Linked DNA regions of Homo sapiens: region 1 is linked to region 2. Evidence: fine-mapped QTL for protein levels in blood plasma. A gene starts in region 2. The other region holds a variant in brackets. All regions are shown on one strand. Distances are between the middles of the regions.

Region 1 (8,000 bases), 24 kb before region 2:
GGGGGATCACTTGAAGCCAGGAGTTCGAGACCAGCCTGGGCAACATGGTGAAACCCCATCTCTACTAAAAATACAAAAAAAAATTAGCCAGGCATGGTGGCACATGCCTGTAATCCCAGGTACTCGGGTGGCTGAAGCACAACAATCACTTGAACTAGGGAGGTGGAGGTTGCAGTGAGCTGAGATTGAGTGCTACTGCACTCTAGCCTGGGTGACAGAGTGAGACCCTGTCTCGAAAAAAAAAAAAAGGGGGCGGGGCAGTGTGGGAATTTAAATCTAAAACACTTTTATCTACTTACTGTCAAGGCACACAAGGTGCCTTGTGTGAAGCAAAGGCACCTTTTCTGAATTTCAGTCATTACCTATTATAAAGAATAGGCAGCTCCTCTAGTAGTTCTTGGTTCAGATCTTCAAACACAGTCTGGGCTTTGTTGAACTCTTCCTCTGCCTAGGTGGTAAAAGAGACAAGACAATCTCCCTCAATTCTGAACCCAGTACTACAGCATGCCTCCTTCATCCTCTGCATTTTTTTAGGCACTAGGCTTTTTAGGAGCCATCCCTCTTCTTCCCCTGACCATGCCCTCCCCAGCCTCAAGACTCTGACTATCCTTACAGCATCAGTGTCAGAAGAAACAGATTTCCTTTAGGACACTGGATGCTGAATTTATAATTTCCTATACCCATGTTGGCCCAGCCACCTGCTACCACCATGGGGAGAAGGAGAACAGGAAGGGTTTACCAGTTTTTGTTGTTGTTTTTGTTTTACCTTGGCAGTCTTGGCCTCATCTTTCTTCTTGGCATTCTGCACTGCCTCCAGGTGGTGTCGGGCACTGTCATAGTCCACGAGTTTCCGACCCCGCTTGGCAATTCTCTCCTGACCCAGGGTAATGAGAAAGGGTGTGGATACTCACTTTTTAGTGGCCAGGATGTAGGTAACAGAATACCAAACAGAGAGCAAGATTCTTGCATCCTACTATCAAATTTCACTTTCGTTGTTTTTTGCTTTTGTTTTTTTTGAGACAGGGTCTTGCTCTGTTGCCCAGGCTGGAGTGCAGTTGTGCGATCTCAGCTCACTGTAACCTCTGCCTCCCAGATTCAAGCAATTTTTGTGCTTCGGCCTCCCAGGTAGCTGGAATTATAGGCATGTGCACCAAGCCCGGCTAATTTTTGCATTTTTAGTAGAGATGGGGTTTTGCCATCTTAGCCAGGCTGGTCTCGAACTCCTGGGCTCATGTGATATGCCCACCTCGGCCTCCCAAAGTGCTGGGATTACAGGCAGGAGCAACCGCACCTGGCCCAAATTTCACTTTCTAATAGGGTTTTGCGCCCATGGGGTCTCCCTCAGTATCTGGGAAGAATGGGGGAGTCTCAGAGGGAGATAGAGTCCTACAGAGCATGTGGAAATCTGTATTAATTATATATATGTAATAGATATATAATTAAATACATATATATATTTCCACCTCCACCTCCCGCTGTATTAAATTTTAATATTTCCTATGAACCCATTATAAACTGGTTCAGCCTCCAGGAGAAATGGCCTTGAGAATCACATGAAAGTGAAAGTCTGGATTTTTGGGAATTAGTCCCAAATCTGCCATTCATAGCCTGTGGCCAGTGGCAAGGCACATCTCTTTTGGAGCCTCAGTAGCCCCATCTCCCCTTATACAACTGTTATTTGAAAGAGTGAATGCTGAATACAAAGTGCTTTGAAAGCTCTAAAACACAATAAAAGCTATAAATTACTATGACCACTGAGAGAAAGTCTACTCAGCCTTATCCAAACTATAAATTATACCAGTGAGAAGCAAACTATGTCTTTGAACCGTTTCATTCTCTCAGTCACAGAATTTGAAAAGATCTTAGCAATTATCTGGTCCAATTTCCCATACAATACCATGAGGCTTCTCTATAACATCCAAGATAAGAAGTAGTTTGACTTCTGTTTGCACAAAGAACAGACAACTCACTATCTTTGAGTCTATTTCATTTCATTTTTGGAAAGCTTTAACTATTAGGAACTTAAGTCAGCCTCCTTCTAACTTCTTCCTCTGAATCAGCACGGTGCTTGACAGAGTAGGTGTTTAATAAATACTAGAGCCGGGTGCAGTGGCTCACGCCTGCAATCCCAGCACTTTGGGAGGCCGTGGGCGGATCACCTGATGTCAGGAGTTTGAGACCAGCCTGGACAACACAGAGAAACCCTGTCTCCACTAAAAATACAAAAATTAGCTGGGCTTGGTGACGCATGCCTGTAATCCCAGCTACTCGGGAGGCTGAGGCGGGAGAATCCCTAGAACCCGGGAGGCGGGGGTTGCAGTGAGCCAAGACTGCGCCATTGCACTCCACCCTGGGCAACAGAGCAAGACTCCATCTCAAAAAAAAGAAAACAAAAACAAAAACAAAAAAAAACTAGCTGAATGAATAGATGAATTCTAATTCTGCTTTCTGGAACAGAAAGCAGAACAGTTTAGAATAGGTTGAATTCCTATTTTACCTAACAGACTTTCAAATATTTGAAGATAACTATTTGATTGCTCCATGTTTCCTCTTCTATACAATAAACATCTTTAGTGCCATCAGCTGTTTCTCACAGCTAAAAGGGATGCCTCTAACTTGGATCTAATTCGAAATCAGCCCAAATATAGCTTACTGAAATCTAAGTTTATTTTATTTATTTACTTTTTTTGAGACACCAGCCTCTGTCACCCAGGCTGGCGCACAGTGGCATGATCTTGGCTCACTGCAACCTCTCCCTCCCCAGCTGAAGTGATCCTTCACCTCAGTCTCCTAGGGTGGCTGGGACTACAGACACGCACCACCACATGACTATTTTTTTTTGTATTTTTTGTAGAGATGGGATTTTGCCATGTTGCCCAGGCTGGTCCCGAACTCCTGGGCTCAAGTGATTCTCTTGCATCGGCCTCCCAAAGTACTGGGATTACAGGTGTGAGCCACTGCACCCAGCCTTGAAATCTAAGTTTAAACATAAACTTCACACTACTTCCAACCTTCTATCCTAACCTCTTGTCTAACCCTCAACCTTAATCTTTCTCCTAACTTACCCAAACTTCATTCTTAATCGTGAGTTCTAATTCTACTTATAATGCTTAACCCAATATGTTCTCTAACCTGGATGGGTCATCCACAACCCAGCCTTGATTCT[GT/G]ACATTGAGTACCTTAATTTCACTGAACTGGGCAACATAGATTTCCATGGTCCTTACAGCCTGGTCAGCCAGTTTCTCCTCGTAGTCTTCCCAAAGGAGATCATTATTCTGTAGGATAGAGTCAGAGGCTGGTGAAGGCTCCACTTCCCAACAACAACTGCCTACCAGGGAAATACCCAAATTCTCCCTGCAAAAACCTTTTTTGTAGCACCGTATTTAGAATACCATGTTGGATTCTGGGGACTAGTCAGAGGAAGAAAAGAGACAGCCCCTACCCCAAGGAACTGCTCTATGGGAGTCTGAACATACATTCAGAGATTAAGAACAGGGCACAAGGTCAAAGCCTTGGACTCCAGAGCTTAGATGGGAAAGTTTAAGAGTGTATAACTGCATGAAGTTTGTTTTAAAAAACAACCAATCTTTAGGAGGTAAAACTTCCCATAATGTTTTAAAGAGGAGAAGAGGGTCAAAATTAGAGGGATCCACAGATTAGGGAAAACTTGTTTTTACCTTAACAGTTGTAGCTTCTTCCTACCACCCAGTGACTGAGGCTACACAAATGCACAGTGTGAACTGGCTCCTTTGTTTTCCTATTTTCTTGGATAGAGAAGCTAAGCTGAGGTTGAGATGCAAACAGGAGTAAGTGCCAATAAGTTGTAAAACTCAAGCCACTCTTACCCATACGATGGCCTTCAGCTCCTCATGACCGTCCCACTCGCTGCTGTAGATCTCCTGCAGGGTTTCTGACACTCTTTTTGAACTTTCATGCATCACTGAAAGGAGAGAATTCAGTCCCACCATCATGTTTCCCCAACAGTAGTTGGTGTAATCACATGGGTGACAAATCAGTGGTTCCAATTCAGAAGGACAAACTCAGAAGGTTTAGGTTATATAAGTGAGGAAAGCTGGATGGGGCTGAAAGGAAAAGTCACTCTTCCTCAGCCCACAAAATTCCAGGAGTCAAGAGTAGTCAAATGATAAAATGACAAAAACCTGGGGGTATGGCTATTGTTTTCCACCCCAAACCTCCTAGTAGCTGTATAAATGCCCTCTGGATTCTCCCATGCTGCATTGCCCACCTTTGACTGCACTAAGGAAGTTCTTCAGGTCCTTGTACAGCTTGTGGCCTTCTGCCTGAAAGAGAAAAGTACATTTGGTGACTAAAGAGATTAATATTTCAAAAGATGCTCCAGAGGTCAAAGTCAAAAAGTAGGTTAAGAGCAGAAATCACACCTGGAATTTCTCTAAATATTCACAATTGTTATAAGTCAGCCTTTACTTTCTTTACCAACCTGTTGTAGGTGGTCTCTTTTGTGTTAGTTTTTAAGATGGGTGCTTGCTAAAGCTCCCATTACACTGGCGTCTTCCTTTCAGTGAACAAGAGCCTATACCCAAGTTCCACTGTTGAAAGGTAAGTGTTCTCCATGTAACACTATCTATGCAATTCTCTGGCTTGCACCCTCCTCTCTGGGTAAAGTGCTACCATTTTCTGCAGACACCAGGCCTTCTTCTTTCTCTGAACCCTCACACAGACATTCCTCTCCTCCCCAATATCCTTCTCTGACTTGTCTCACTTTACCCTTCCCTTCCATCAGTCACCTTTTATACTACTCCAAGGAGCCTCATCATTGCTTCTCCTGTTCCACCCCGAATGTCTTCATCTATAGCTCTATCTATCCCTGCTTCCATCTTTGCTCCTGTGTCTGAAATCTCATTTTTTTAGGCTAGGAACCCCAAGTTCAGACAAGGGCTCCTCCTCCCTCTAAAAAAGGAGAGGAAGGTATTATTTAGACTTGGAAGTTCAAATCTCAATCTGGTAGATGAACTGCTTTTGTTATAACTCTGACAAATGTTCATTTAGCCTCTGCTTCCCAATACTTCCAGAAACTGGAAACTAATGTCTTGCCTGAGACAGTATCACTTGATTTTAAACTAGCTCTGTTAAAACTTTTTCTGGCTGGGCGTGGCAGTTCACACTTATAATCCCAGCACTTCGGGAGGCCAAGGCTGGCGGATCACTTGAGGACAGGAGTTCGAGACCAGCCTGGTCAAAATGGTGAAACCCTGTCTTTAGTAAAAATACAAATGTTAGCTGGGTGTGGTGGCGCACACCTGTAGTCCCAGCTACGCAGGAGGCTGAGGTAGAAGGATCGCTTGAACCTGGGAGGCGAAGACTGCAGTGAGCTGAGATCGGATCACGCCACTGTACTCCAGCCTCGGTGACAGAGCAAGACTCCATCTCAAAACAAACAAACAAACTTTTTCCTATTAGTCTTGGGTTGGCCTTCTGTACTCATAGAGTAGATCTAATTTCTCTTCCACACATGCTTGAAGACAACTTGCATGTGCCCTTGACCAAGCCTTTCTCACAGGTTTCCTCAATTGTTCCTTATGGTGTTTAGGCCCTCTTCCCATTTTGGTCTCCTTCCTATGTGTAAACTCATTTTGAAGAGTTGGTTGGGAATTTAAGGCCAGACATCTGACGTTCTGGAACCTGACTTCAGGACTGTGGACTGTAGGGATGGACTGAGAGGTGCAGCCCACTTCAAGGGAACTCTAGGGAGCCAGCCTACAGATCAGAACAGACCAGTTCAGGGGATGTTGTACTTGAAAGCCAAGCTGCATTATTCAGTACACCATAAAATACTTGTTGTGAATTTGTTCATTTGTTAATTGCTGTATTCATTACTTGATAGACTATTGATGATACCAAAAGTGTAAAAAACTGGCCAGGCGCAGTGGCTCACGCCTGTAATCCCAGCACTTAGGGAGGCCGAGGCGGGCGGATCACGAGGTCAGGAGATCAAGGCCATCCTGGCTAACACGGTGAAAGCCCATCTCTACTAAAAATACAAAAAAATTAGCTGGGTGTGGTGGCGGGCACCTGTAGTCCCAGCTACTCAGGAGGCTGAGGCAGGAGAATGGGCATGAACCCAGGAGGCAGAACTTGCAGTGAGCTGAGATCACGCCACCGTACTCCAGGCTGGGCGACAGAGCCAGACTCCGTCTCAAAACAAAACAAAAAACAAAAGTATAAAAAAGTATGGGGCCAGGCACGGTGGCTCACGCCTGTAATCCCAGCACTTTGGGAGGCCAAGGCAGGTGGATCACCCGAGGTCAGGAGTTTGAGACCAGCCTGACCAACATGGTGAAACCCCATCTCTACTAAATATAAAAAATTAGCAGGGTGTGGCGGCAGGCACCTGTAATCCCAGCTGCTTGGCAGGCTTAGGCAGGAGAATCGCTTGAACCCAGGAGGCAGAGGTGGCAGTGAGCCGAGAGCAAAACTCCATCTCAAAAATAAATAAATAAATAAAAATAAAAAATTATGGGAAAGGCTGGGCGCAGTGGCTCACGCCTGTAATCCTAGCAGTTTGGGATGCCAAGGCAGGAGGATCACGAGGTCAGGAGCTCTAGACCAGCCTGACCAATGTGGTGAAACCCTGTCCCTACTAAAAATACAAAAATTAGCCAGGCATGGTGGCACGCACCTGTAATCTCAGCTACTCAGGAGGCTGAGGCAGGAGAATCACTTGAACCCAGGAGGCAGAGGTTGCAGTGAGCCGAGATCGCACCACTGTACTCCACCCTGGGCAACAGAATGAAACTCCATCTCAAAAAAAAAAAAAATGAGAAAAAAAGGAAAATTCAGAAAATTCTATCTAGTGACAAAATTTTTCCTGTGGAAATCTTTGGGGAAAGGTCACTATTTACTTAATTTTAGCAGCAGAAAATTTAGGTCTACTTGGTCAAATCAAAGAAAACTGGACTAGTTATTTCATCCATTTTTTTTGCCTCCAGAGCTCACTGTTTTCTTTCTTTTTTTTTTTTTTTTTTTTTTTTTGAGATGGAGTCTCGCTCTGTCGCCCAGGCTGGAGTGCAGTGGCGTGATCTTGGCTCACTGCAACCTCCGCCTCCTGGGTTCAAGCGACAATTCTCCTGCCTCAGCCTCCTGCATAGCTAGGACTACAGGTGTGTGCCACCACGCCTGGCTAATTTTTTGTATTTTTAGTAGAGACAGGGTTTCACTGTGTTAGCCAGGATGGTCTCGATCTCCTGGCCTCGTGATCTGCCCACCTCGGCCTCCCAAAGTGCTGGGATTACAGGTGTGAGCCACTGTGCTGGGTCTCAGAGCTCACTTCTAAGCTAGTCCAAACTTTTGATCAAACTTCAGATCAAAAGTCCCTCTCAAGGGGCTGAATGTCAGTTTGAAGGGACATGAGGACACAGTCTTAAAGGAGTGAAAGGCACTGTCAGACAGGTACAGAACTGTGATTGTGTGCTGTGTTACAGCAAATGAGGATTAAGAGAACATCATATAAACAATCAAGGAAGTAGGCCAGGCGAGGTAGCTCAAATCTGTAATCCTAGCATTTTGGGAGGTTGAGGTAGGCAGATCACTTGAGGTCAGGAGTTCAAGACCAGCCTGGCCAACATGGTGAAAGTCCGTCTCCACTAAAGATACAAAAATTAGCCAGGTGTGGTGGTGGGTGCCAGTAATCCCAACTACTCGGGAGGCTGAGGCAGGAGAATCACTTGCACCCGGAAGGTGGAGGCTGCAGTGAGCTGCAATTGCGCCATTGCACTGCAGCCTGGGCGACACAGCAGACTCTGTCTAAAAATCAAAACCAATCAAGGAAGTGTCAGATGCTACAGAGACGTTAGAATGCAGGAAGAATTGGTAAAATTCACTGGATTTGGTAATGGGTCACTGGTGACCATGAGAAAGCACTTTCAATAGCATATTGGAGACAGATTCAGTCAGTTAACAAAATTCAGAAACACTCAGCATCTACCAGAAAGGATATCTCACTTCCTCCTTGCTTTTTCATT
Region 2 (11,657 bases):
GGATCTGAGAGGTTTGCCACAGAGAAATCACAAACAGATGGTGAAAGCAGTACTATAGTTGGAAATGAGAAGATGTATCATACTAAAAACACACACACACACACAAACACACACACACACACTCTAAAGCCAGCTTAAATTCAGTCCCATGTTGAGTTTGGGCGGGAAATGGAAAACAGACCAAGAATGTTTCATCCCTATTGTGTTTAATGGTCACCAGACCTCCACTCCCAGCTTTTCAGAGGATGCCTGAACAAAAAGTGTTTCTACTTCTGAGCTCTGTTCCTGAGAGAGGATCAGCAGGAAGTGGGGGAGGCACAGATGTGAGAGTGGCTTATCAGGAACGTTGTAAAGCAGCAGCCTGAGTGAGGTTAGGATTCAGAGGCAGGACACCTGGGTTTCAGTAATATTTCTGCTACCTACCAATCTCTTTTGAGCCTTGTTTCCTTATTTCTAAAACAGAGATGCTAATAACCTGCTTAAAGTGTTGAATAGATGAAGGGAGATGACATCGGTAGAATGTTGGCTCCATAAAGGGAGAGAGAATCACTTTGTCTTTTTTTTTTTTGAGACAGAGTTTTGCTCTTGTTGCACAAGTTGGAGTGCAATGGCGCGATCTCGGCTCACGGCAACCTCCGCCTCCCAGGTTCAAGCGATTCTCCTGCCTCAGCCTCCTGAGTAGCTGGGATTACAGGCATGCGCCACCACACCCGGCTGATTTTGTATTTTTAGTAGAGACGGGGTTTCTCCATGTTGGTCAGGCTGGTCTCGAACTCCCGACCTCAGGAGATCCACCTGCCTGGGCCTCCCAAAGTGCTGGGATTACAGGCGTGAGCCACTGCACCCCGCTGATAATCACTTTCTTATATCCCTGTCTCTGGTCCATAATAGGCGCTTGATATTTGACACATTTCACTATTTGACACATTAGCTATTACTTATTACTCAGAAGATTACATCCAACTGCTTGCAGAAAAAGCAAAAAGTGTTGCAAGGAATTCTTTCATTTTAGTGCAAATTTCTCCCTCTTTATCTTGGTCTCAATAACTTCCCAAGACTCAAGGACTGGCTTCAGGCTGACGGAGCTGAGCTCCCTTCCGGCATCCCAGGCCATTCCCACCTTATCGAAGTTCAACCTTTGCCTACCCTTTTGTCTAGTCTAGGTTCAGAATATCTTGTTTTCTTCATCAGCTGGGAATTCCTCATGGCAGATTTGAGTTTGCTCCTCTTTCTCTACTTCCTCAGGGTTCAGGCCAGAAGAACCTGAGAGACTGGTTCTGTCTTTGGGAAGTATTTGACTCTGAGTCTAATGTGACAGCTTTTCAATTTAGTGTTCTTACCATATTGAGTTTCATCAAGAACATCAACCCTCTCATTTTACAGGTGCAAGATCTGAAGCCCAGAGCAGGACATTATTTAGCCAAGGTTTGGAGTCTATGCTTACAAAGGAGTGAAAGCCCAAAGCAAGGTTTTAGTGTTGACGAGAGGCTAGATGAAGACAGAAGATGCAAGAGTGAAATACAATCAATTGTATGTCTTTTATTTTTATGTATTTATTTTTATTTTTTGAGACAGAGTCTCCCTCTGCTTGAGTGTGGTGTGGTGTGATCACTGCTCACTGCAGTCTTGATCTCCTGGGCTCAAGCAGTCCTCCCACCTTGGCCTCCCAAAGTGCTGGGATTACAGGAGTGAGCCACTGTGCCTGGCTGGTATGTCTTTTTAAAATTACTATCATTCATGAGTGTTTTGTCTTTTAGGGTTTTTTTTTTTTTCAACCACAGTGTGGCCTTCTCTCCAGTACCTCCTGCTCGCCCACACTGTTTCGAGCTAGACCTTCCCATAGGCCCTGCTCTCGGGTCTACCAGATTTGTAAGTCTTCAGAGAGGCTGAAACTAGGATCAAGGTGAAGTTAGGGTAAGTGAAGTAACGAAGTCTGGCTACACGAACTCTTTCCCTTTTCCTCCTCTCTTTCACATGACCTCAAATGATAGAAAATAACCTCCCTTCCATTGTGGTCTCTTAAAGTCAGGAGCTACATCTACATTCCATCAGTTTTCTGCTGATAAATCAACTCGGGAGAGCTGGTTGCCTTTAAGCCTTCCCAGGGCTCAAAGCAGTGCTCCACTTTTAGAAGATAATAGGGATATTTCAGTTGGTAAGCAGAGCTGTTCATCCAAATGCTTCTAAGTCCATCAGCTCTTAGAAAACCAAAACTTCTCCGTTGTAGAAGGCAGGTTGGGCTTAATAAAGAGAGAGAGAAAAAAAGGAAAACCGAAACTCTATCTCAGGTCCTTCTTGTCTTTCTTCCCTCGCTCTTTCTTCTGGCTGACATGTCTTCCCAAACCGCCTTGTCTACTAGAGGGTTGGTAGGTGGAGAGCAGAGGCTCAGGTTAGAAGCAAAGAAAATATTCTGTACAGGTAGAAACAAAAATGCCATCAAAATGTGTAGAGAATGTCCCCACAATTTAGATTGCCAAGCAAGTAATAGATGGGCAGCCCACCTAAGTGCCAGTGCTGGAGCAGGGCTACCTGACACTAACCAAGGACACACTCTGAACACAGATGTGGTTCATCACCCTGGGAGGTGTACTCCCCAACGCCAAAGGGAGGGTAGAAGAAGCAGATTTGGGCTCCTGCTTACGTCAGCTGAAACACCACCCAGAGGCCAGGCAGGGTCAGGTAGGGGGAGAACTATGCAGGATTATTCTAAGCCTTTGGTGGGGGGTGCCTGCTGGCATCCGCTGCATCGCTGTTTTTGGGGAAATTGCCCTCTATGGAAAATTACCCTCCAATTTCATCATCTGTAAAATACCAATTTTGGATTGCTAGCACAAAATTTGATACAAAGGTGGCCACCACCATCACTTCCTTTCTTTCACCTTTTCTGGGTCAGCCTGAGGGTTGTCGAAGGTTCTGCCCAGAGACTGTTGTCTCCCCAGCTTCCCTTATCCTTGCCCAAGATCGGGTGGCGGTCTCCGACCTCTCTCCAATCTGCCAGTTTTCATGGAAGCCCACTCCTCGCTCCCGTTTCCCTGGGAGAGCGGGAGACCCTTCTCGTCAGCCCAGACCCTTCGGGGCCCCTGAGCACCCTGCCCGCCCCTCCTGCCCGGCCGGGCTCGGCCTCGGCCTCGGCTCCCTGTGGGCCAGACAGACAGCGAGGCCCGGCCACCTACCTTCTCCTGGGCCCTGCTAAACTTCTTCTGCACCTGCTTGGCGAAGAGGCCGGCCGCGCCGCCTGCCTTGCCCTCTGCCATCCTGCCAACTCCCTGGGGGCCGCCGCCCTGGCCCCGCGCCCTGTGGTTTTCTGAGGCCCCCGAGGAGGAAGTGCGGGCTCCCGGCATGCCTCGCATCCGGCCCCAGCCCTGAGCCACCTCAGGCCGCCCCTGGCCAGCCCTGAGGCCCGCCCCTCAGCCCACCACTGTCAGCTGGAGCAGGCCGGCTCGGAGGGGCGGGCCCGGGGCCTACCCTCAGGCAGCGCTCGCTCGAGGCCAGCTTCCGAGCTCCAACCCCTGCCCGAAACCTCGGCCTCACTGAACCAGGTCCTCAGTGGTGGGCCCACACTCACTCGCTCCGGAAAGCCAGTTCCCATCACGCTGAGCACTGCAAAGCAACTGCCACCGCAGGGTAGAAAATGATGTGGGTTCCACTCAGCGAGAGGACCTACCATATCGAAAACACGTTTAGGTTCTCTGAGTATGCATGCGAAGCCGCCATGTACACTGCGTTTCTTGCTCCAGGTAGGCTCTAAGCCTGGAACTGGTAGGGATAGAGTGCAGAAAGCAGGCAGGACACCCGAGCCGGGCTTGAAAGAGAGAAACAGGCCGGGCGCGGTGGCTCACGCCTGTAATCCTAGCACTTTGGGAGGCCGAGGCGGGTGGATCGCCTGAGGTTAGGAGATCAGCCTGACCAATACGGTGAAACCGCGTCGCTACTAAAAATACAAAAATTAGCTGGGTGTGGTGGCGCACGCCTGCAGTCCCAGCTACTCGAGAGGATGACGCAGGAGAATTGTTTGAACCCGGGAGGCAGAGGTTGCAGTGAGCCGAAATCGCGCCACTGCATTCCAGCCTGGGCGACAGAGCGACAGTTCGTCTCAAATAAATAAATAAATAAATAAATAAATAAATAAATAAATGAGGAACAACTAAGCTGGAGATAGAAACAGGGTAGGGGGCTGGTTCTTAGGCAAGAGAATGATCACATTGAAAAAAGGCTGAGGAGGATAGTATGGACGCCCGTGCTGAGCATGAGGAGCAAGTTTTTCTAGTTGGAGTACAGTGTACTGGATGGAGGCAGAATGTGAACACAGACACAGATTGTGCAAATTGGGGTGCGGCTGTTGAGATGACAACTATTGTTTCTTTAGGGAGAAGTTCTCCAAAAAATTCCTCCCTGACCTGTTTGAGGGGATAGCTTGAGATTAGGACACTAGGTGTGGAGGAACCACGTACTCAGATTTTACAGTGCAGGTTAAAATTTCCTCAAGGCAGGGAAGAAGGTCAAAATAACACTTCCTAAGGAGTGGAGGGGGAAGATAGGGCCTGACACAAAATTAGAGGCCCTTGTATGCTACTGTGTTCCTCTTCTTTCTCCAAAACAATCATTACTGCACTCAAGGTCAACTGTGTACCAGGCATTGCTGGGTGTTCTGAAACAAGGATGAATAAAATGCAGTCCCTGACCTTAAGATGCTTAATGAAGTCTGGCCGGGCACCACGGCTCACACCTGTAATCCCAACACTTTAGGAGGCTGAGGCAGGCAGATTGCTTGAGCCCAGGAGTTTGAGACTAGCCTGCGCAACATAGCAAGACCTTCTCTCTGCTAAAAATACAAAAATTAATTGGGCGTGGTGGCACACACCTGTAGTCCCAGCTATCAGGGAGGCTGAGGTGGGAGGATCACCCGAGCCAAGGGAGGTGGAGGCTGCAGTGAGCCCTGATGGTGCCACTGCATTCCAGCCTGGGCAAAGCGTGAGGCCCTTTCTCAACCAATAAAGAATAAGTATTAATAAATAAGTACATAAATAAAGATGCTTAAAGTCTGGAAGTGGAGATAGGTGGGTAATCAGGTGATTCTAATGTAATGTGCTTAATTTATTTGTAGAGATGGATACAAAATTTTCTGGGAATAGGTGATTAGGGTTTGTTTGTTTGTTTGTTTGTTTGGAGACAGGGTCTTGCTTTGTTGCCAGGCTGGAGTGCAGCAGTGCCATCAGGGCTCACTGCAGCCTCTACCTCCCAGGCCCAAGTGATGGTCTCACCTCAGCCTCCTGAGTAGCTGGGACTAAGGTGCGTGCATGCCACCACTCCTGGCTACCCAGGCTGATCTGGAACTCTTGAGCTCAAGCAATCCACCCGCCTCAGCCTCCCAAAGGGCTGGGATTACAGGTGTGAACCACCTTGCCCTGCCAGGCGATTAGGGTTTATTCTGGATGTTAGCTTTGGTGATGCCCTGGAAGAGGCAGGGTGATGAAAATAGAAGGACTTGATATTGGATGGGGAGAAGTGGGGAGAAGCATGGAGAATAGCAGTACTGCGGGAACACTGAGAGTAGATGGCAATGCTAACAGGTGTGTCACTGGCAGAAGGAGGCCAGTACCTGTGTCCCTGCCAGGACTACATGGCATCCTCAGCAATGCAACCCAGCCACTGTCTCCTAAGAAACTCTGTTTAGTGCCAATATCTTGCAAACTGAAATTGATGGTCACCAAATCATGTAGTGTTAGAGAAGAAACAACCCTTAGAAGTTAATTAGATAGGGAAATTGAGTCACAGAAAGGGCTGATGACTTGACCACAGCCACCCAGCTCCTCAGTGGTGGAACTGGGATGGGAACAGACTCAGCCTCTTATAGCACATGGAGTGTTCTAGAGGCCTCTGCTGAGCCTGTCAATTCCAGGGTCTGTCTCAGCCAGTTTCTCCTTCTGTAATGTTTAATACCCTAGTCCCTCTTGTCTGGTCTTAAGTGATTGACATGAAAAGCTGCTTCTCATCCTTTTTAGCCTTCCCCTTTCAGTTCCCCCTTTGCTTTCTCATAGGCCACTCTAACAGACTGAGCCCTGGCCAGGATACAGCAGAATTATCAGTTTCCCAGTTCTCTGTGGTTTATAGAACCCTGGATCCGGTTGCCTAATTTTAGTCCCAGCCTTAAAGTGCTGATTCACACTTAGCTTGAGGCCCTATGTTGTTGTTGCCTCTTCCTTTCTGTTCTGCCTCTTCCCCTCAACCCTTTCGTTTCTTTGTTTAGTATCTTCTCTTCTCTCCTTTTTTCTATTCTTAGCTCTCCAGTCTCCATTGTTGTTTTTTTTTTTTTTTGAGACAGAATCTCACTTCATTGCCCAGGCTGGAATGCAGTGGCGCAATCTTGGCTCACTGCGGCCTCCACCTCCCAGGCCCAAGCGATTTTCTCCAGTCTCCTTTCTAATTTGTCACTTTCTTAGTCTGCTGGTATCTGCCCTGCCTCCTAATCTTATACTTCTATCTCTGGTGTATCCTAGTAGTTGCCATCACCCAGAAACTTGGAGTGGGCGTTCGTTTTAGGCACTAAAGGGGGAAACAAAAGAAGGATGAACCCACAGTATACCTGGGAAAGACAGGGCACATTCAGTCACTCAGGAAGTTTTTTGTTTGTTTGTTTTGAGACGGAGTCTTGCTTTGTTGCCCAGGCTAGAGTGCAGTGGCACGATCTCAGCTCACTGCAACCTCCACCTCCTGGGTTCAAGTAGTTTTCCTGCCTCAGCCTCTTGAGTAGCTGGGATTCCAGGCGCCTGCCACTGTGCCCAGCTAATTTTTGTATTTTTAGTAGACACGAGGATTCACCATCTTGGCCAGGCTAGTCTCGAATTCCTGACCTCGTTATCCACCCACCTCGGCCTCCCAAAGTGCTGGGATTACAGGCGTGAGCCACCGTACCCAGCCCACTCGGGAACCTTTTTTTTTTTTTTTTTTTTTTGAGATGGTCTTTCGCTCTTGTTGCCCAGGATGGAGTGCAACGGTGCAATCTTGGCTCATTGCAACCTCCACCTCCCGGGTTCAAGCGATTCTCCTGCCTCAGCCTCCCAAGTAGCTCTGTGCCTTCGAATATAGCAAATATCCACAGGAATAGGGCAGATGGACAGATTAGTGGATACATAGATCCTAAAGTAACCCAAAATGGATAACATAAAGCTACTCCCACTGGGTTTGTGTTGTGGACTGGTAGAGGTAGCAGCAAAGGGAAGACCCAGCCTGCAGATGTGGTGAAATCCAACTTGGATCCTATAACTGCATTTCTTCTAAATCAGTGGTCCCCAACCTTTTTGGCACCAGGGACCCGTTTCGTGGAAGACAATTTTCCACGAACCGGGGTGGGGGATGGTTTCGAGATGATTCAAGGGCATTACATTTATTGTGTACTACATTTCTATTATTATTACACTGTAATATATAGTGAACTAATTATACAACTCACCATAATGTAGAATCAGTGGGATCCCTGAGCTTGTTTTCCTGCAACTAGACGGTCCTGTCTGGGGGTGATGGGAGACAGTGACAGATCATCAGGCATAGGGACCCCTGCTCTGGAGGGCTTAATTACAAATAGACACAGTATGATAATGTATATCTAGTTTTATTTGCTTTTCTATCAATGGCTCAATAGTCTTTCAGAATGTGTTTTACTTTTTGATCGCAAGTCCTACTGCAGATCTAAGAACCATTTTGGGAAGGTCGTTGGACTCAGGAAAATGTTCAGTTGGAGGCGATGACCTGAAGGAAAGACAGTTATGTCCACAGTCAGTAACTCCTGCCTACCTCCTTTCTTGTTTCCTCAGGGCTCCCAGTTAAGTATGGTTTTGTACTGGGTTTATGGGAAGTTGACAGGGTGTGGGGACAGGGAGGCAGGAAGTCAGCCTCAACTGTGATAGGACAGCTCAGTGTTATAGGTACATACCCAGAATACAGTGGCAAAGACAGACCTTGAAATGGCCGTGAGCCAAGATTAATACACAAGGCTCCAGAATGTGTTTGAAGGGTGGAGGGCACAGTGAAATGTGTTGTGTGGCCTTTCCACCAGGTCAGTGTAGGCAGAGCCTCACCTAACTCTCAAGCATTATTTAAGGTGGTAAAACCTGTCAAAAATTAGAGCAGGCCGGGCGCTGTGGCTCATGCCTGTAATCCCAGCACTTTGGGTGGCAGGTGGATCACTTGAGGTCAGGAGTTCAAGACCAGCCTGACCAACATGGTGAAACCCGATCTCTACTAAAAATACAAAAAAAATTTACCAGGTTTGGTGGTGCATGCCTATAATCCCAACTACTTGGGAGGCTGAAGCAGGAGAATCACTTGAACCCAGGAGGCAGAGGCTGCAGTGAGTCGAGATCAAGCCACTGCACTCCAGCCTGGGTGACACAGTGAGACTCTGTCTCAAAAAAAAAAAAAAAAAAAAGTTAGAGCAAATTATCATAATGTCCTTAGAAAGACGTTGTGGGAGAGGAAGTCGGTGCCTCCTTCCCTTGCCTAGGAGTACGCAGGCCTTTCTGAACCTGTTTTTCCCTGGGCTTTGACTTAGGAAGGCACTGATATGTCCCTGATTCAGATTTGATGTTGCCACTGTCTTACCCTAAGCAATAAACAATACAGTGAAGTCTGCTCTGTGGGTATGTGGAGGGGAGGGAATTCAGGATGGCAGCCTTATTGAAGGAAAGTACACCGTGGAAGGAAGGGAAGGGAGTAAACACATGAATGTGGTAAGGAAGATGACGGCTTGCCCAGTCCATCCAACGTTTGTTCCCCAACCCAGCCAGTGCGTAGGTCTCCAGGTGACCCCATTTCAACCCATCATTTGAGAGGACTCACATTATTTATCCAGGAGATGTAAGCAGAGACCTGGGTGAAGACTGTAGGCTTCCTGGAGACATTACAGCCCCGGCTGGACACAAAGCTGGTCACTCCATGGACAGAATACTTGCCATTCACCAAGCAATGGAGGGGGCCCCCAGAGTCACCCTGCAGGGAGGAGAAACAGAATCCTAAAACTCCAGATCTTCGGGCTTTTGCTTGCACTCCCCCCGCCCCCGTCTCTGGTTGTGAAATTCTGTACGGTTTTAAAGCTCCAATGCAAATCTCCACCTCCTTCATGTCCCCACAATCAAAATGAATCTCTTCTTCCTTTCTAAACAACCACAATACTTCTTCTCTTTTGCTGCACTTATTTCATGTTCTGCCTTGTATTTTGGTTTCATAATTTGTTTGTACCTCCTCACACATGTCTATGAGCTTCCTGAGACAAAAACTCTTACCAAGATCTTTCCTCTCCACAATGCTAGCATAGAACTTTAAATATCTAAAGTTCAATCGCTTTTATTGGCTTAAATTGAACCTGGGGTGGCAAAAATAGGGCATTCTAATAATTTCTTTATCCCCAGCATTTAGACCAATGGGTATAATTAGACCAAGTATTTAGACTTGGTAGTCAAAACATGCTAAACTAAACTGGAATGAAGAGGAAAGTGATGTATTAGGTCACATGCTCAACTGGGAACCTGGGTTTATGGAATATGATCTTGCCTCCCTTCTTACTCAGCTTCTAGAATGCCAGGTCCATAATGCCACACATAAAATGGGAAGATACTTCTCTGGAAAAACTGAACAGTCCAAGAGGAAAGACCTAAAGATACTGACATTGGAGGTCCTCCACTAAAATGGCCTAGCCAGATCACCTGACAGAGAATCCACTATTGATGAACCCCATCTAAGGCTCAGAGCTACCAATCAGCCCACCCACTCTGGGTAAAAATACCACCCCCACTCTGAAATAAAAGCAGATGGTTAAGGATCACTAAACATCTAAAGAATGCCTCTAGCCGGGCCCAGTGACTCATGCCTGTAATCCCAGCACTTTGGGAGGCTGAGGCGGGCGGATCACGAGGTCAGGAGATCGAGACCATCCTGGCTAACACGGTGAAACCCCATCTCTACTAAAAATACAAAAAATTAGCCGGGCGTGGTGGTGGGCGCCTGTAGTCCCAGCTACTCGGGAGGCTGAGGCAGGAGAATGGCGTGAACCCGGGAGGCAGAGCTTGCAGTGAGCCAAGATGGCGCCACTGGGCTCCAGCCTGGGCGACAGAGTGAGACTCTGTCTCAAAAAAAAAAAAAAAAAAGGAATTCATCTAATATAAAAATAAAGATTGAAACAAAGAAACAAGGAGCTAAATAAAAAAATGAAGGCAACCAAGACTATGCAGGGAGAAGAAAACAAGCAATAAAACCATAACTAATAGGCTGGGCATGGTGGCTCCACACCTGTAATCCCAGCACTTTGGGAGGCTGAGGCGGGCGGATCACCTGAGGTCAGGAGTTCAAGACTAGGCCAACACAGTGAAACCCCTAAAACTCTATTAAAAATACAAAAATTAGCCGGGCGTGGTGGTACATGCCTGTAATCCCAGTTACTCAGGAGGCTGAGGCAGGAGAATCGCTTGAACCCAGGAGCTGGAGGTTGTAGTGAGCTGAGATTGCACCACTGCACTTCAGCCTGGGCGACAGAGCGAGACTCCGTCTCAAAACAAACACACAAACAAAAAACATGACTAATATGCATCCATGATACAAGAACGGCATACTACTAAACAACATTCAGACAGCAAAAAGAGCCTTTGGAAATTACAGATTTGATAGATTTAGAAATGAGAGACTGGAAGAGTTGGAACATAAGATAGAACAAACAAGATATAGAGAAAACAAGAGGACCAGCTTAGGAGGCAAACATGTGAATAACAGAAATTCTAGAAAGAGAAAAGTGAAAATAGAGTGGGAGGAAATCAACAAATAAACAACATTTTCTGGATCAAAGGTCTGGAGTTTCCGGGAAAACCCACCCATTAAGTATCCCTCACAACGAATGCAAATAGATCCACATAGACCACTAGGTCAAGAGAAGATGATATAGGTCACTTAACAAATTAGTGGAGTGTGTGGGGTTGAATTAATGAAAAACTGACTATATTAAGCAAATGAAAAAGACAATTTTTAACAGACATTGAAAAAATTGAAAAAGTTGTGCAGCAAGGGCTGACCTTGGTGGTTTATGACTGTAATCCCAGCACTTTGGGAGGCTGAGGCAGGAGGACTGCTTAAGCTAAAGCCAGGAGTTTGAGACCAGCCTGGGGTACAAACCGAGACCCCCATCTCTATTAAAATTTTAAAAAATCAGCTGAGTGTGGTGGCATGTGCCTGTAGTCCTGGCTACTCAGGAGATTGAGGTGGGAGGATTTCTTGAGCCCAGAAATTCAAGGCTGCAGTGAGCTGTGATTGTGCTACTGCACTCCAGCCTGGGTGACAGAGTAAGATCCTGTCTCTTTAAAAAAAAAAAAAAAAAGTTATGCAGCAAATGAAAAGTAAACCTAGAATATATTACATGATTTTGTTGTAAATAGCATTTTATATAATCATAGTAAATGCCGAATGTTGATCTAACCAAAATATTTTGAGAGGTTGAGATGGTGATCAGAAAATGTCATGCTTGGAGGGCAGGTATGTATATATAAAAAATAAAGAGAATCACATCTGCCATAATGTCAACACAAAAATAGCAGTGTAAGTATATAATTTTAAAGATGTAGACACCAAAAGAATCAGCTGAAGAGTTGAAAGTGGCCTCCCATGGGGTGGGAGAACTA

Direction of the effects. Alleles are on the strand shown, and positions count from the first base shown. The strength of an association depends on the size of the effect and on how common the allele is.
For the plasma level of the protein whose gene starts at base 3,326 in region 2, GT is the high allele of the variant in region 1 and G is the other (moderate association).

The links. PIP is the posterior inclusion probability: the model's chance that the variant is causal. The UK Biobank Pharma Proteomics Project read protein levels with antibody pairs (Olink). The fine-mapping took linkage between variants from a reference panel, not from the people measured, so its PIPs are less certain.
Region 1: its variant is fine-mapped to the plasma level of the BIN2 protein (UK Biobank, PIP above 0.99).

Annotation. Positions count from the first base shown.
Region 1 is chr12:51,298,841-51,306,840 of GRCh38, forward strand. BIN2 (bridging integrator 2) reads right to left here. Exons shown (of 13, transcript NM_016293.4): 3 at 4,247-4,301; 4 at 3,846-3,940; 5 at 3,180-3,275; 6 at 767-874; 7 at 363-448. Among named protein-coding and RNA genes, the nearest start is that of BIN2, 21 kb to the right of the region's middle. The variant GT/G (reference allele first, on the strand shown) is at 3,167.
Region 2 is chr12:51,320,849-51,332,505 of GRCh38, forward strand. BIN2 (bridging integrator 2) reads right to left here and starts at 3,326. Exons shown (of 13, transcript NM_016293.4): 1 at 3,174-3,326. The coding sequence starts at 3,254. It overlaps CELA1 (chymotrypsin like elastase 1), which reads right to left. Exons shown (of 8, transcript NM_001971.6): 7 at 8,836-8,985; 8 at 7,594-7,746. The coding sequence ends at 7,729. LOC105369767 (a long non-coding RNA gene) reads right to left here and starts at 3,160. Exons shown (of 2, transcript XR_944957.3): 1 at 2,880-3,160; 2 at 1,520-2,355. RefSeq lists silencers at 1-91, 3,072-3,561, 6,257-6,551 and an enhancer at 2,852-3,041.